Regions from separate parts of the Homo sapiens genome. Here region 1 is linked to region 2. The links come from fine-mapping of genetic effects on gene expression. A gene starts in region 2. The other region holds a variant in brackets. All regions are shown on one strand. Distances are from middle to middle. Region 1 overlaps CGAS (cyclic GMP-AMP synthase). Region 2 holds the start of CGAS (cyclic GMP-AMP synthase).

Region 1 (8,335 bases), 21 kb after region 2:
AATTAGCCAGGCGTGGTGGCATGTGACTTAGTCCCAGCTACTCAGGAGGCCGAGACAGGAGAATCACTTGAACTTGGTGGGTGGAGTTGCAGTGAGCCAAGATCATGCCACTGCACTCCAGTCTAGGAGACACAGCGAGACTCCATTAAAAAAAAAAATTATATACTTTATCCAGATTTCCTTAGTTTTTCTTAATGTCCTTTTACTGTTCCAAGATCCCATTTAGGATACCATATTGCATTTAGTTGTCATGTCTCCTTAAGCTACTCTTGACTGTGACAGTTTTTTGGTTTTAACAGTTTTGAGGAGTACTAGTTAGGTATTTTGTAGAATGTCCTTTACTTGAGATTTCTTTATTATGTTTCTTATGATTAGATCAGAGTTATTGGTTTGGGGGAGGAAGGTCACAGAGGCAAAGTGCCATCCTTATCAAATTTTATCAACGGTACGTGCCACCTTTCTTTACAGTCATGTACAGTTGACCCTCAGGATTGGCTCCAGGGTACCCTGCAGACACCGAAGTCCACAGATGCTCAAATCCCTTACATAAAATGATATAATACAGTTGGCCCTCCATATCTGTGGGTTTCAATTCACGATTGGTTGAATTCTCAGATGTGAAACCCTCAGATACAGAGGGCCAACCGTATTGTGTAGCTATCCCTGAACTCTTTATTCTGTCCCATTAAAATCTTTGTCTATCTTTGTACCATGTTGTTGTACATAATGTAGCTTTATAATTAGTCTCAATATCTTTTAGGGCAAGTTCTACCACTTCGTTTTTCTCCAAGGGTGTCTGAGAGAGTCTTGACCCTTTACATTCTCATATAAATTTTGAAATCAGCTTTTCAGATTCCACAAAATACTTTTTGGAATTTTGATTGAGATAATGTTGAATCTATAGATAAATTTGGGGCCAGGAATGATGACTTATGCCTGTAATTCCAGCACTTCAGAAGGCTGAGGAAGGAGAGTTGCTTTAGGTGAGGGGTTCAAGACCATCTTGGACAACACTGTGTAAAAACTCTAGCCAGGCGTGGTGGCTCACGCCTGTAATCCCAGCACTTTGGAAGGCCAAGGTGAGTGGATTACGAGGTCAAGAGATCGAGACCATCCTGGCCAACATGGTAAGACCCCATTTCTACTAAAAATACAAAAATTAGCTGGGCATGGTGGCACGTGCCTGTAGTCCTAGCTACTCGGGAGGCTGAGGCAGGAGAATCGCTTGAACCCAGGAGGCAGAGGTTGCAGTGAGCCAAGATCACGCCATTGCACTCCAGCCTGGTGACAGAGAGAGACTCCGTCTCAAAAAAAAATTAAAAAAAAAAAACTCTCTATAAAAGTTTTTATAGAGAGTTGTGAGTCTTCATCTCTATAAAAACTTTTTAAAAATTAGCCAGGCGTGGTGGTGTGCACTTGTAGCTTGTAGTCTTAGTTACGCAAGAGAATCACTTAAGCTCAGGAGTTCGAGGTTACAGTGAGCTATGATCTTGCCACTGCACTCCAGCCTGGGCAACATAACAAGACACTGTCTGTATTAAAAAAAAAAAACATGGGAGAGAGTTGATATGTTAACAATATTGAGTCTCCCAATCCACTTATTTACATCTCCTCTAATACTTCCCAGCTTCATTCATTAGCATTTTCTCTGCAGAGGTTTTGTATATCTTTTGTTAATTTATTCATAGGTAATTGATCTATTTTAAAACTATTTATTTATTTATTTATTTTGAGATGGAGTCTCGCTCTGTCACCCAGGCTGGAGTGCAGTGGTGCGATCTCGGCTCACTGCACCCTCCACCTCCTGGGTTCAAGCGATTCTCCTGCCTCAGCCTCCTGAGTAGCTGGGATTACAGGTGCCCACCACCGTGTCTGGCTAGTTTTTGTATTTTTAGTAGAGATAGGGTTTCACCATGTTGTCCAGGCTGCTCTCAAACTCCTGACCTCAGGTGATCTGCTCACCTCGGCCTCCCAAAGTACTGGGATGACAGGCGTGAGCCACCGCGCCTGGCCAAAACTTTTTATTATGAAAATTTTAAACCAGTACCAAAGGAGACTGGGCCAGGAGTGTTGGCTCATGCTTGTAATACCAGCATTTTGGGAGGCTGAGGTGGGTGGATCACTTGAGCCCAGGAGTTCAAGCCTGGGCCACGTGACAAAACCCTGTCTCTTCAAAAAATACAAAATAAATTAGCTGGGTGTGGTAATATGCACCTGTTGTCCCAGCTATTTGGGGGGCTGAGGTGGGAGAATCACTTGAGTCTAGGAGGTTGAGGCTTCTGTGAGCCGAGATCATGTCACTGCGCTCCAGCCTGGGTGACAAAGTGAAACCTTGTCTTAAAAAAATAATCAATGACTGGGAGCGGTGGCTCACACCTGTAATCCAAGCACTTTGGGAGGCCAAGGCGGGTGGGTCACCTGAGGTCAGGAGTGCGAGACCAGCCTGGCCAACATGGTGAAACCCCATCTCTACTAAAAATACAAAATTAGCCGGGCATGGTGGCGCATGCCTGTAATCCCAGCTACTCAGGAGGCTGAGGCAGGAGAATCACTTGAACCTGGAAGGCAGAGGTTGCAGTGAGCTGAGATGGTGTCACTGCACTCCAGCCTGGGCAACAGAGCGAGACTCAATCTCAAAAAATAAAAATAAATAAAAATAAATGTATAAACAAATAATAATTTTCTTATATTAGCTGGGCACAGTGGCTCACAGCTGTAATTCCAGCACTTTGGGAGGTGGGAGGATTGCTGGACCCCAGGAGTTTGAGATCAGCCTGGGCAAGGTGGAGAGACCCCGTCTCTACAAAAAAATCCAAAAATTAGCCAGCCATGGTGATGTATGCTTCTGGTCCCGCTATTGGAACGGCTAACATGAGAAGATTGCTTGAGGCTGGGAAGTCGAGGTTTCAGTGAGCTGTGTTCACGCACTCCAGCCTGGGTGATAGAGGGAGATCTTGTCTCAAAAAATGAAAGAAAAAAGTAATAATTCCCTAATATCAAACACCTATTCAGTATTAAAATTTCCGCTTGTCTTGTAAGTGTCATACTTTTTTTGTATGTTTGGATCAGTCTGTTTGGATCAGGATTCAAATAAGGTTCATACATTGTGACTGACCAATATGTCTGTTAAATCTCTTTTAACTCATAACTTCCTCTTTCATAACTTTTTTATTCCTTGAATAAAATTTACTCAATTTACTTCAATTTACTCATTGAAGAAACAGGTTATTTTTCCTGTAGAGTTTCCCAAAGAGAGTTTGTAGAGTGCATTCTAGAAGTGTCGTTTAGCATGTTCTGCTTTCATCCATATTTCTTTTTGTTGTTGTTGTTGTTTTGTTTTTTTGAGAGGGAGTTTTGCTCTTGTTGCCCAGTCTGGAGTGCAATCGCCCGATCTTGGCTCACTGCAACCTGCGCCTCCCAGGTTTAAGTGATTCTCCTGCCTTAGCCTCCAGAGTAGCTGGGATTACAGGCTTGTGCCACCATGCCCGGCTAAATGTTTGTATTTTTAGTAGAAATGGGGTTTCACCATGTTGGTCCGGCTGGTCTCGAACTCCTGACCTCAGGTGATCCACCGCCTCAGCCTCCCAAAGTGCTGGGATTACAGGAGTGAGCCACTGTGCCTGGCCTCATCCATATTTCATTAGCAGTTAGATCTAGAAGGTAACTGTTGGGTGTTTTTTTTTGTTTGTTTTTTGTTTTTGTTTTTGTTTTTTGAGACTGAGTCTCACTCTGTCATCCAGGCTGGAGTGCAATGGCATGATCTTGGCTCACTGCAACCTCTGCCTCCTGAATTCAAGCGATTCCCCTGCCTCAGCCTCCTGAGTAGCTGGGATTACAACTGTGTGCCACAATGCCTGGCTAATTTTTGTATTTTTAGTAGCGACGGAGTTTCGCCATGTTTGCCAGGCTGCTCTTGAACCCCATATCTCAGGTGATCTGCTCACCTCGGCCTCCCACGGTGCTGGGATTACAGGCATGAGCCACTGCACCTGGCCTAATTGCTAGTTTTTATACTATTGTAAGTAACATCTTTCTCAAAATTTCATTTTTTGTTTATTACCATATATCAAAATACCTTTGATTTTTGTATCCACAATCTTGGTAACTCTTTTAATTGATTTGGTGAGTTTATTTACATAATTTTTTTTTTCTTTTTTCATTTTCTTTCTTTTTTGAGATGGAGCCTCGCTCTGTTGTCCAGGCTGGAGTGCAGTGGCGTGATCTCGACTCACTGCAACCTCGGCATTCCGGGTTCAAGGGATTCTCCTGCCTCAGCCTCCCAAGTAGCTGGGACTATATACAAATACATACATACATGTGGTATGTGTAGGCACACGCCACCACACTGGCTAAGCTAATCTTTCTATTTTTAGTAGATATGGTGTTTCACCATGTTGGCCAGGCTGGTCTCCTGTCTCGGCCTCCTGAAGTGCTGGGATTACAGGCGTGAACCACCATGCCCAGCATTGTAGATTCTTTTGTATTTCCTATATATGCAATTACATCACCTATGAATAATGATGGCTTTGTTTCTCCCTTTCCAGTGTGTAACCCTGTTTTTCCTTCCCTTACTGTGCTTGCTATGACACCCAGTGCATGTTGAACAGAAATAGAGATAGCAGATGTTTTGCCTTCTTTCTGATTTCTCTCTCCAACTTTTTACCTCACATAATGATTGTTGCTATAGTTTTCTAAAATCTACCTTTTATGGAATCAAGTGTCCATCTAGACTTAGATTGCTAAGAGGTGTTTTTTTAATGATGAACGACTATAGGATTTTAAGAGCTTCATTTTCTTCATCTATTGAGACAATCATGTATTTCTCCTCTATTCTGTTAATGTGACAGATTATATTGATTGATTTTTCTGAAAAATCATTCAGATTATAAACTACTTATACTTTGCTAGTATAAAACCACGAAGTAACAGGGTGGTCAGAGCATAAAAGAGCTAGCCATGGTAAGACTCGGGGAGAAATTTTTTTTTTTTGAGACAGAGTCTTGTGCTGTTGCCCAGGCTGGAGTGCAGTGGCGCGATCTC[C/G]GCTCACTGCAAGCTCCACCTCCCGGGTTCGCGCCATTCTCCTGCCTCAGCCTCCCAAGTAGCTGGGATTACAGGCGCCCGCCACCACGCCCGGCTAATTTTTTGTATTTTTGGTAGAGGCAGGGTTTCACTGTGTTAGCCAGGATGGTCTTGATCTCCCGACCTTGTGATCCGCCCACCTTGGCCTCCCAAGGTGCTGGGATTACAGGCGTGAGCCACCGCGCCCAGGTGAAATCATTCTATATTTACACAAACTCTCATAAATAAGAATAAAGGAAATGGTCCCCAATTCATTTTGTATTAATATAAAACCTGTAAGGATGGTACAGAAAAAGTGAATAAATTGATTCAAATTATTATTGAAACAAAATATTTAACAAAGGGAATTTAGCAATATATAAAAGGTAATACATCTTACTATTGCTAACTATATTAAACTGTGACTTCCTTTTTTTTTCGGTTAGGCCCATTTTTTGTCTCAGTGTACTTATTTTTATACATAATTATTTATCTGTTCACTTCTTTTGATTCACTCCTAAGATTTTTTCAGAATATTTTCTTTTTCTTTCTTTCTTTTTTTTTTTTTGATGGAGTTTTGCTCTTGTTGCCCAGGCTGGAGTGCAATGGTGCAATCTCGGCTCACTGCAACCTCCACCTCCCAGGTTCAAGTGATTCTCCTTCCTCAGCCTCCCGAGTAGCTGGGATTACAGGCATGTGCCACCATGCCAGGATAACTTTTTTTTGTATTTTTGGTAGAGATGGGTTTCTCCATGTTGGTCAGGCTGGTCTCGAACTCCCGACCTCAGGTGACCCACCCTCCTCGGCCTCCCAAAGTACTGAGATTACAGGCGTGAGCCCCCATGCCCAGCCCCAGGATATTTTCATGAGGGAAACCACTTGAATATTGTTTAGATATGGATGCTTTGGGTAAAGTGCTTTTTTGTTTTTCTTTTTGAAATTAAGAAGAAACATGGCGGCTATCCTTCTCTCACATCGAAAAGGAAATTTTGAACAATCATGGAAAATCTAAAACGTGCTGTGAAAACAAAGAAGAGAAATGTTGCAGGTAACAGCCTTATTTTGTTAAATGACAGATTATCTATGGTATGCTTAATTATTTGTTGACTCCACACCTCAGACCTGAAGAGCTGAGCTGGGTTGGGTCTGGGGGGCAGGGCAGGATTGGGTTGAGCTGGGGAGAGTGTGAGTATGAAACCAGAGAAGCTAGATCCAAAGGGCCAAGGAAAGGGTGTTGTTAGAAGGCAAGGCCGGGGAATAGTAGTTCTGAACCCTGGATCAGATGAATGTGTTTTTGTATAGATGTATCAGTAGGACAGAGTGAGAGGGTATGAGCACTAGCCATGACAATTCGATGGGTCTTAGTATTCTGCTTGTTTAAAAGTAATGGATATTAATGCCATATAATTGGAGGAGGCCAAAAGGTCGCTCTTATTAGATACTGGGCTTGCTTTGGGATAGTTGGGTTGTGTTGACGGCTAGGGATTGATTGGCCAAACTGAAAACAACACTAAGTGAGTAATTTTTTTTTTTGAGACAGACTTTCACTCTGTCACCCAGACTGGAGTGCAGTGGCACAATTACGGCTCACCACAGCCTCGATCTCCTGGGCTCAAGCAATCATCCTACCTCAGCCCCCCAAGTAGCTGAGATTACAGGTGCATGCCACCATGCTCGGCTAATTTAAAAAAAAATTTTGTAGAGGGCCTGTTGGCTCACACCTGTAATCCCAGCCTAGCAACATGGTGAGACCCCACCTCCATAAAAAATTTAAAAATTAGCCAGGCATGGTGACTGGTGCCTGTGGTCCCAGCTACTTGGAAGGCTGAGGTAGGAGAATGGCTCGAGCCCAGAAAATCAAGGCTGCAGTGAGCCATGATCGTGCCACTGCACTGCAACCTGGGTGACATAGTGACACCCTGTCTCAAAAAAAATTTTTTTTATTGGTAGAGATGGTGGTCTCCCTTTGTTGCCCAGGCAGGCTGGTCACCAACTCCTGGGTTCAAGTAAACTTCCCGCCTTGGCCTCCCAAAGTCTTGGAAGTACGGGGATGAGACACTGCACCCCACCATTTTTTTTTGTGATGGCATACACACCATAAAGAACTAAGATTGAAAAGGAATTGTTCATTTGAGTTTCTAAAGTTGGCCAGTATTGGCCAGGCATGGTGGCTCAAGGCCTGCAATCCCAGCACTTTGGGAGGCCAGGGCAGGTGGATCACCTGAGGTCAGGAATTCGAGACCAGCCTGGCCTACGTGGCGAAACCCCGTCTCTACTAAAAATACAAAAATTAGCTGGGCGCAGTGGCACGTGCCTGTAATCCCCGCTACTCAGGAGGCTGAGGCAAGAGAATCACCTGAACCCGGGAGACAGAGGTTGCAATAAGCTGAGATCATGCCACTGCACTCCAGCCTGGGCAACAGAGCAAGACTCCATCTTAAATAAATAAATAAATAAATAAATAAATAAATAAATAAAGTAAGTTGGCCAGTATAAAGATCACAAAAGTTAAAAAGTCAAAACAAAAATGCCCAACATGCAGGCACAGAGGTTCTTTAAGATCTCATATGCAGGCTTTGAAGTAAGCATTAAGAAAACTATATTGTTGGCCAGGCACAGTGGCTCACGCCTGTAATCCCAGCACTTTGGGAGGCCGAGGCAGGTAGATCACCTGAGGTCAGGAGTTCGAGACCAGCCTGGCCAACGTTATGAAACCCCGTCTCTACAAAAATGCAAAAATTAGCCGGGCGAGGTGGCATGCACCTGTAATCCCAGCTACTTAGGAGGTTGAGGCAGGAGAATCGCTTGAACCCAGTAGGCAGAGGTTGCGGTGAGCTGAGATCACACCACTGCACTCCAGCCTGGGCAACAGAGCGAGACTCCATCTCAAAAAAAAAGGAAAAAGAAAAAAAAAAAGAAATATTGTTGATAAGGCTAAATAGTTTCATAAATAGTACATTTTGTCAACTACTAAATAACTAGATGAGATGGCAGATTATCTATGGTACTCTTAATAATGTAAATAATTCTGTGATACAATCAGTGGATTTTAGAAAAGAAAAAATTTATATTAAATTTGCAGTTCAATAAAGTAAAATAATTTTATAACAAAACAAGATTTTGGATCGCTTGAGGGGGGTGAGGGGAGGGTCAGAGGTTGCAGTGAGCCGAGATTGTATCACTGCATCCCAGCCTGGGTGACAGAGTGAGACCCTGTCTCAAAAAAAAAAAAAATAGTATAAATATCTGTTAGCTTTATACAGTTGAAGAAATTCAT
Region 2 (8,311 bases):
TTCTGTTGCCCAGGCTGGAGTGCAGTGGCAGGATCTCACTCACTGCAACCTCTGCCTCCTGGGTTCAAGCTATTCTCCTGCCTCAGCCTCCCGAGTAACTGGGATCACAGACATGTGCCATCACACCCGGCTAATTTTTTGTATTTTTAGTAGAGACAAAGTTTCATCATGTAGGCCAGGCTGGTCTTGAACTCCTGATCTCAGAAGATCTAGGGCTCCTGAAGTGCTGGGATTATAGGCATGAGCCACTGCGCCTGACCTCTAATATGCATTTCTATCAGGGGCTTTAGAAATAGATACTTGAAGGCCAGGCAAGGTGGCTCACGCCTGTAATCCCAACACTTTGGGAGGCCAAAGGGGGCAGATCACCTGAGGTCAGGAGTTCGAGACCAGCCTGGTCAACATGGTGAAACCCCGTCTCTACTAAAAAGGTAAAAAAATTAGCTGGGTGTGGTGGCAGGCGCCTATAATCCCAGCTACTCAGGAGGTTGAGGCAGGAGAATCGCTTGAACCCAGGAGGCGGAGGTTACAGAGAGCCGAGATAGCACCATTGCACTCCAGCCTGGACAACAAAAGTGAAACTCCATCTCGAAAAAAAAAAAAAGATATTTGAAAGCCTGTATTGAGATACTCTAGAATCACAACAGCTGAAGCAGTATGAATGATTTAAAATGTAAATGCCAGGTCCGGTGCAGTGGCTCATGCCAGTAACAGCACTTTGGGAGGCTGAGGCGGGCAGATAGCTTGTTGGGGACCAGCCTGGGCAACATGGTGAAACCACATTTCTACAAAACCATACAAAAATTAGCTGGGCATGGTGGGGCACGCCTGTAGTCCCAGCTGCGCAAGAGGCTGAGTCACGAGAATCTCTTGAACCCGGGAGGCGGAGGGTGTGGTGAGCTGAGATTGTACCATTGCACTCCAGCCTGGGCAACAAGAGCAAAACTCCGTCTCAAAAATGAATAAAATAAAATAAAATAAAAAGAGAGAACTTTACACAACTTTTTTTCCCCCTGAGACAGAGTCATTTGCCCTGTCGCCCAGGATGGAGTGCAGTGGTCTGATCTCAGCTCATTACCACCTCCGCTTTCCCGATTCAAGCAATTCTCCCGTCTCAGCCTCCCCAGTAGCTGGGTTTACAAGCATGGCCCACCACACCTGGCTAATTTTTGTATTTTTAGTAGAGATGGGTTTTCACCATGCTGGACAGGCTGGTCTTGAACTCCTGACCTCAAGTGATCCACCCACCTTCGCCTTCCAAAGTGCCGGGATTATAGGCGTGAGTCACCGCACCAGGCAGAAACTTTACACAACATTTTAAAGATTTTCTGTGCTTTTTAAAAAATGTCAAATAGAAGTATTTACTCCAATTGCAGTCAATCTTTGTTTCATTCCATCTTGTAAAAGTTGAATATTTTCTCTTTCTTATTTTTTTCTTTTTTCAAAGTATTTTTCATTTGTTATTAATTTTTTTCTTTTTAAAAATTATTATTTTATTTCTTATTGATTTTTAAAAAACCCTATTTAAATTTACATTGAAAAAGTTGGCCGGGCGCTGAGGCTCATGCCCGTAATCCCAACAGTTTGGGAGGCCGAGGCAGGTGGATCACGAGATAAGGAGTCCCAGACCAGCCTGGCCAATATGGTGAAACTCCTTTCTACTAAAAATACAAAAATTAGCCGGGCATGGCGGCGCACACCTGTAGTCCCAGCTACTTCGGAGGCTGAGGCAGGAGAATCGCTTGAATCCGGGAGGCAGAGGTTACAGTGAGCCGAGATCGTGCCACTGCACTCCAGCCTAGGGGACAGAATGAGACTCCATCTCAGGAAAAAAAAAAAAAAAAAGGGAAAAGTTTCTGGCCAGGCGCCGTGGCTCACGCCTGTAATCGCAGCACTTTGGGAGGCCGAGGCGGGTGGATCACTTGAGGTCAGCAGTTTGAGAGCAGCCTGGCCAACATAGCGAAACCCCGTCTCTACTAAAAATACGAAAAATTAGCCGGGCGTGGTGGCGGGCGTCTGTAATCCCAGCTACCCGGGAGGCTGAGGTAGGAGAATTGCTTGAACCCAGGAGGCAGAGGTTGCAGTGAGCCAAGATCGCACCATTGCACTTCGGCCTGGGTGACAAGAGCGAAATTCTGTCTCAAAAAAAAAAAAAAAAAAAAAGAAAGAAAGAAAGAAAAGAAAAAGAAAAAAAAGAAAAGAAAAAGTTTCTGTGGCAGGGCACAGTGGCTCATGCCTACAATCCCAACACTTTGGGAGGTTGAGGAGGGAGAATCGCTTGAGTCTAGGAGTTCGAGACCAGCCTGGGCAACATAGTGAGACCTCCCCATGTATACAAAAAAATTAAAAAGAAAAGAAAAAGCTGGGCATGGTGTCCGCACCTGTAGTAACAGCTACTCAGGATGCTGAGGTGGGAGGATCGCTTGAGCCCTGGTGGCTGAGGTTGCAGTGAGCCGAGATTGCGCCCCCCTAACTCAAACCAAAATTAAATTTAAAAAAACTTTCACTTGAAAGAGAAAAGTTTCTCTGTCAATGTTTTTGTTTTGTTTTGTTTTGTTTTGTGATGGACTCTTTTTCTGTTGCCCAGGCTGGAGTGCAGTGGCGCGATCTCGGCTCACTGCAACCTCTGCCTCCCGGGTTCAAGCAGTTCTCTGTCTCGGCCTCCCGAGTAGATGGGACTACAGGCGCCACCAAGCCCGGCTAATTTTTTGTATTTTTAGTAGAGACGGGGTTTCACCATGTTGGCCAGGAAGGTCTCGATGTCTTGGCCTCGTGATCCGCCCGCCTCGGCCTCCCAAACTGCTGAGATTACAGGCGTGAGCCACCACGCCTGGCCTCTTTTTCTTTTTTGAGACAGAGTCTCGCTCTGTCGCCCAGGCTGGAGTGAAGTGGCACGTCTCAGCTCACTGCAACCTCCGCCTCCCGGGTTCAAGTGATTCTCCAGCCTCAGCCTCCCGAGTAGCTGGGATTACAGGTGCCCGCCACCACGCCTAGCTAATATTTGTATTTTTTAGTAGAGACGGGGTTTCTTTCGCCTTGTTGGCCAGGCTGGTCTTGAACTCCTGACCTCAGGTGATCCGCCCACCTCGGTCTCCCAGATTGCTGGGATTACAGGCGTGAGTCAGTGTGCCCAGGCAACACACACACACACATATATTTAATTATAAGAAAGACCAGGTCTTGCTGGGTTGCCCAGGCTGGTCTCAAACTCCTGAGCTCAAGCGACCCGCCTGCCTCGGCCTCTCGGATGCTGAGGTTACAGGCGTGAGCCACCGCGCCCGGCCCTACCTCATCTTCTTAAGACAGGGGCACGGATTGCCTGGAGAGTTAGAAACTTCGAGACTTTTGTAGCCTCAGGAAAGGCCGCGGCCAGCCTCTTCGCGGCATGGGCGTGGCTCCCAGCGACTTCCCAGCCTGGGGTTCCCCTTCGGGTCGCAGACTCTTGTGTGCCCGCCAGTAGTGCTTGGTTTCCAACAGCTGCTGCTGGCTCTTCCTCTTGCGGCCTTTTCCTGAAACGGATTCTTCTTTCGGGGAACAGAAAGCGCCAGCCATGCAGCCTTGGCACGGAAAGGCCATGCAGAGAGCTTCCGAGGCCGGAGCCACTGCCCCCAAGGCTTCCGCACGGAATGCCAGGGGCGCCCCGATGGATCCCACCGAGTCTCCGGCTGCCCCCGAGGCCGCCCTGCCTAAGGCGGGAAAGTTCGGCCCCGCCAGGAAGTCGGGATCCCGGCAGAAAAAGAGCGCCCCGGACACCCAGGAGAGGCCGCCCGTCCGCGCAACTGGGGCCCGCGCCAAAAAGGCCCCTCAGCGCGCCCAGGACACGCAGCCGTCTGACGCCACCAGCGCCCCTGGGGCAGAGGGGCTGGAGCCTCCTGCGGCTCGGGAGCCGGCTCTTTCCAGGGCTGGTTCTTGCCGCCAGAGGGGCGCGCGCTGCTCCACGAAGCCAAGACCTCCGCCCGGGCCCTGGGACGTGCCCAGCCCCGGCCTGCCGGTCTCGGCCCCCATTCTCGTACGGAGGGATGCGGCGCCTGGGGCCTCGAAGCTCCGGGCGGTTTTGGAGAAGTTGAAGCTCAGCCGCGATGATATCTCCACGGCGGCGGGGATGGTGAAAGGGGTTGTGGACCACCTGCTGCTCAGACTGAAGTGCGACTCCGCGTTCAGAGGCGTCGGGCTGCTGAACACCGGGAGCTACTATGAGCACGTGAAGGTGAGCTGCTTGGCGCCCTCCCGCCGAGCCCCGCTGCTCGGCCTTCCGCAATCCGCAGTCCCTACCTTCCCCGGGTCGCGCCCCTCACTTCCCTTCGGAAGTAACTTAGACTTTTGCATGTTTTTCGGTAGCCTAGTCTAAGTAAAACGACAAACCGTTCGTTTATTCATCTACACATCCAACGATCAGACAACCAACCGGTACTGATTGCTGGCTAATTTCAAGACACTGCTCCCGGGGGAATTCAAATGTATGGGTTCATTCATGCAAGCCGACATGTATCGAGTTTCCGTAACAGGGCAGTGTTTGATGGTGTGGACCTGAGGTCCCGAGTCAGATATTGACTTGGATAATTTGAAGTGGTCTGTTAAAAATTCCACGTAGACTTTTTCCTATGAGGAAGACCTCTTACTCCATAGAAAAAAAGATCTTCAGTTTCTCTCCCCCTCTTCCTCCCTGCCCCCTCTCCTGCTATCCCGTCTGACCCCAATTTCTTTTTTTTCTTTTTTCTTTTCTTTTCTTTTTTTTTTTTTTTGAGGCGGAGTCTCGCTGCGTCCCCCAGGCTGGAGTGCAGTGGCGCTATCTCGGCTCACTGCAAGCTCCGCCTCCCGGGTTCACGCCATTCTCCTGCCTCAGCTTCCCGAGTAGCTGGGACTACAGGCGCCCGCCACCATGCCCGGCTAATTTTTTTTGTATTTTTAGTAGAGACGGTGTTTCACCGTGTTAGCCAGGATGGTCTCGATCTCCTGACCTCTTGATTCGCTCGTCTCGGCCTCTCAAAGTGCTGGGATTACAGGCGTGAGCTACCGCGCCCGGCCGTCTGTCCCCAGTTTCTTACACAGAAATCATGGGAAGCTTACAGTATAATGTTAAACAAACAAATAAGAATATCTCCTACAGATACTAAAACGCTTTCTAGATACACATTCCGTATAATTGCTTCGACGTGTGTATTACACAGCTCCATTTGCTTGTGGGTGATTGAGTCATTAATCATTCCTGTGTAAATTGAAAGTTTAGAAGCAGGTTCCTGACTGGAGCGTGTTTCTTGCCCAGCAAGAGATTTGTTTCTTTTTCTTTTTCTTTCTTTCTTTCTTTTTTTTTTTTTTGAGACGGAGTTTCGCTCTTGTTACCCAGGCTGGAGTGCAATGGCGCGATCTCAGCTCACCTCAACCTCCACCTCCCAGGTTCAAGCGATTCTCCTGTCTCAGCCTCCTGAGTAGATGGGATTACAAGCATGAGCCTCCACCCTGGCTAATTTTGTATTTTTAGTAGAGACGGGCTTTCTCCATGTTGGTCAGGCTGGTCTAGAACTCCCGACCTCAGGTGATCTGCCAGCCTCAGCCTCCCAAAGTGCTGGGATTACAGGCGTGAGCCACCACACCCGGCTTCTTTTCTCTTCTTTTTTCTCTTCTCTTCTCTTCTCTCTATCTCTCTGTCTCTCTCTTTTCCTCCCTCCCTCTCTTCCTCTCTCTCTCTCTCTCTTTATTTTGTTCTTTCTTTCTTTTCTTTCTTCTTTCTTCTTTTTTTGATGGAGTTTCACTCTTGTTGCCCAGGCTGTAGTGCAGTGGTGCCATCTAGGTTTCGCTGCAACCTCCGGCTTCCAGGTTCAAGCGATTCTCCTGCTTCAGCCTTCCAAATAGCAGGGATTACAGGTGCCTGCCCCCACTCCCGGCTAATTTATGTATTTTTAGTAGAGACGGGGTTTCACCATGTTGGCCAGGCTGGTCTCGAACTCTGACCTCAGATGATCCACCTGCCTCGGCCTCCCTAAGTGCTGGGATTACAGGCTTGAGCCACGGCACCCAGCCCAGACTGTGTCTTGAGCATGATTCTTTTTAATTAACTAATTTACTTTTCAGCATCAGATATGTCTCTGATTGAGCATGATTCTTATTATGTAAGTATCAATTCAGTTCAATTACTGTATATGGCGGGTCCAAAGGAAAAAGAAAGTTACTAGTTAGAATTAGAGAACAAGACATTCAGAAGACAGTCTCCATTCAGAACCACTTTGTGTGTGTGTGTGTGTGTGTGTGTGTGTGTGTTTGAGACAGAGTCTCACTCTGTCACCCAGGCTGGAGTGCAGTGGCGCGATCTCGGCTCACTGCAAGCCCTGCCTACTGGGTTCACACCATTCTCCTGCCTCAGCCTCCCAAGTAGCTGGGACTACAGGCGCCCGCCACCATGCCCAGCTAATTTTTGTATTTTTAGTAGAGACGGGGTTTCACCGTGTTAGCCAGGCTGGTCTCTATCTCCTGACCTCATGATCTTCCCGCCTTGGCCTCCCAAAGTGCTGGGATTACAGGTGGGAGCCACCATGCCCAGCCCAGAACCACTTTGTTTTTAAAAATTATGCCAATGAAAAGAAATCCAGTGAAATTTGTTTTATCTAAAACTTTTTCTTTTTTTCTTTTTCTTTTTTCTTTTTTTTTGGGGATGGAGTCTTGCTCTGTCACCCAGGGTGGAGTGCAGTGATGTGATCTTGGCTCACTGTAACCTCCGCCTCCCGGGTTCAAGTGAGTCTCCTGCCTCAGCCTCCAGAGTAACTGGGATTACAGGCGGGCGTCACCTCACCTGGCTAATTTTGTATTTTTAGTAGAGATAAGGTTTCAGCATGTTGGCCAGGCTGGTCTCGAACTCCTGACCTCAAGTGATCCACCTGCATCAGCCTTTCAAAGTGCTGGGATTACAGGCGTGAGCCACTACACCCAGCCTAAAACTTTTTCTATTACTGATTATGAGATATATGTGGGCCAGGTACAGTGGACTCATGCCTGTGATCCTAGCACCATGGGAGGCTGAGGCGGGAGTTTGAGTCCAGCCTGGACAACATAGTGAGACCCCAGCTCTACCAAAAATAAGTTAAAAATTAACTGGATGTGGTGGCACACACAGGTAGTCCCAGCTACCTGGGACTACAAATTCTAGGTAAAAAAAAATCTCGAAAATACATGGGAAGTTTCTTGTAGAAATTCCCTGTAGAATTGTCAGTCCATATGTTCTTTTCATTCTAAGTGTTAATGTACTTTACTATTTATATAGTTTGGACTCAGTGAAAAGGTTACATAGAAATCAATTAATTGTAGTTTTTTTTGTTTGTTTGTTTTTTGTTTTGTTTTGTTTTGAGACAGAGTTTCACTCTTGTTGCCTGGGCTGGAGTACAATGGCGTGGGTGGCCTCAGCTCACTGCAACCTCTGCCTCCCAGGTTCAAGCGATTCTCCTGCCTCAGCCTCCCGAGTAGCTGGGATTACAGGAATGCACCACCATGCCTGGCTAATTTTTTGTGTTTTTAGTAGAGATGGGGTTTCTCCATGTTGGTAAGGCTGGTCTCAAACTCCTGACCTCAGGTGATCCACCCGTCTCAGCCTCCCAAAGTACTGGGATTACAGGCGTGAGCCACTGTGCCCGGCCAGTGGTTTTAAGTAATGGTATATTAACTGGTAAAGAAAAGGAACAAACTACAGCAACATGAACAGTGAAAATGAATTACATAAATAATGTTGAACAACAACAAAAAGAACGTAAAGGAATACATACAGCTGATGCAGCAAGACAAGGAAAATAAAGGCATAAGATGGGAAAAAGAGTGATGAAATCGTTATGTGTAGATGACTTGATTGGCTTCACATATAAACTGTTGGAAATAATTAGTAAATTAGCAAAATTGCTGGTTGCAAAGTCAATAAACAAAAATAAAAATATTTCAATATACTAACAAGATTAAAAACAAAATGAAAATACCATTTAGAATATCATCAAAAATATCAAACCTAGGTCCATTGGTGCATTCTGATAGTCCCAGCTATTTGGGAGGCCGAGGTGGGAGAATCACATCAAGTCAGGAGTTTGAGGCTGCAGTACACTATGATCTATCTGTGAGTAGCCACTGTACTCCAGCCTAGAGACCCCATCTCTAAAAAATAAAAATTGAAAACTTTGGCCAGGCATGGTGGCTCACGCCTATAATCCCAGCACTTTGGGAGTAGAGGCAGGCAGATCACTTGAGGTCAGGAGTTTGAGACCAGCCTGGTCAACATGGCAAAACCCTGTCTCTACTAAAACTACAAAAATTAGCTGGGCGTGTTGGTGCGCGCCTGTAT

Evidence for each region. PIP is the estimated chance that this variant, and not a neighbour inherited with it, causes the effect.
Region 1: its variant is fine-mapped to the expression of CGAS in whole blood (INTERVAL, PIP 0.99).

The regions. Positions count from the first base shown.
Region 1 is chr6:73,426,480-73,434,814 of GRCh38, reverse strand. It overlaps CGAS (cyclic GMP-AMP synthase), which reads left to right. Exons shown (of 5, transcript NM_138441.3): 4 at 6,004-6,106. Among named protein-coding and RNA genes, the nearest start is that of CGAS, 22 kb to the left of the region's middle. The variant C/G (reference allele first, on the strand shown) is at 5,041.
Region 2 is chr6:73,447,421-73,455,731 of GRCh38, reverse strand. It overlaps CGAS (cyclic GMP-AMP synthase), which reads left to right and starts at 3,435. Exons shown (of 5, transcript NM_138441.3): 1 at 3,435-4,207. The coding sequence starts at 3,551. RefSeq lists an enhancer at 3,154-3,633 and a silencer at 3,804-4,013.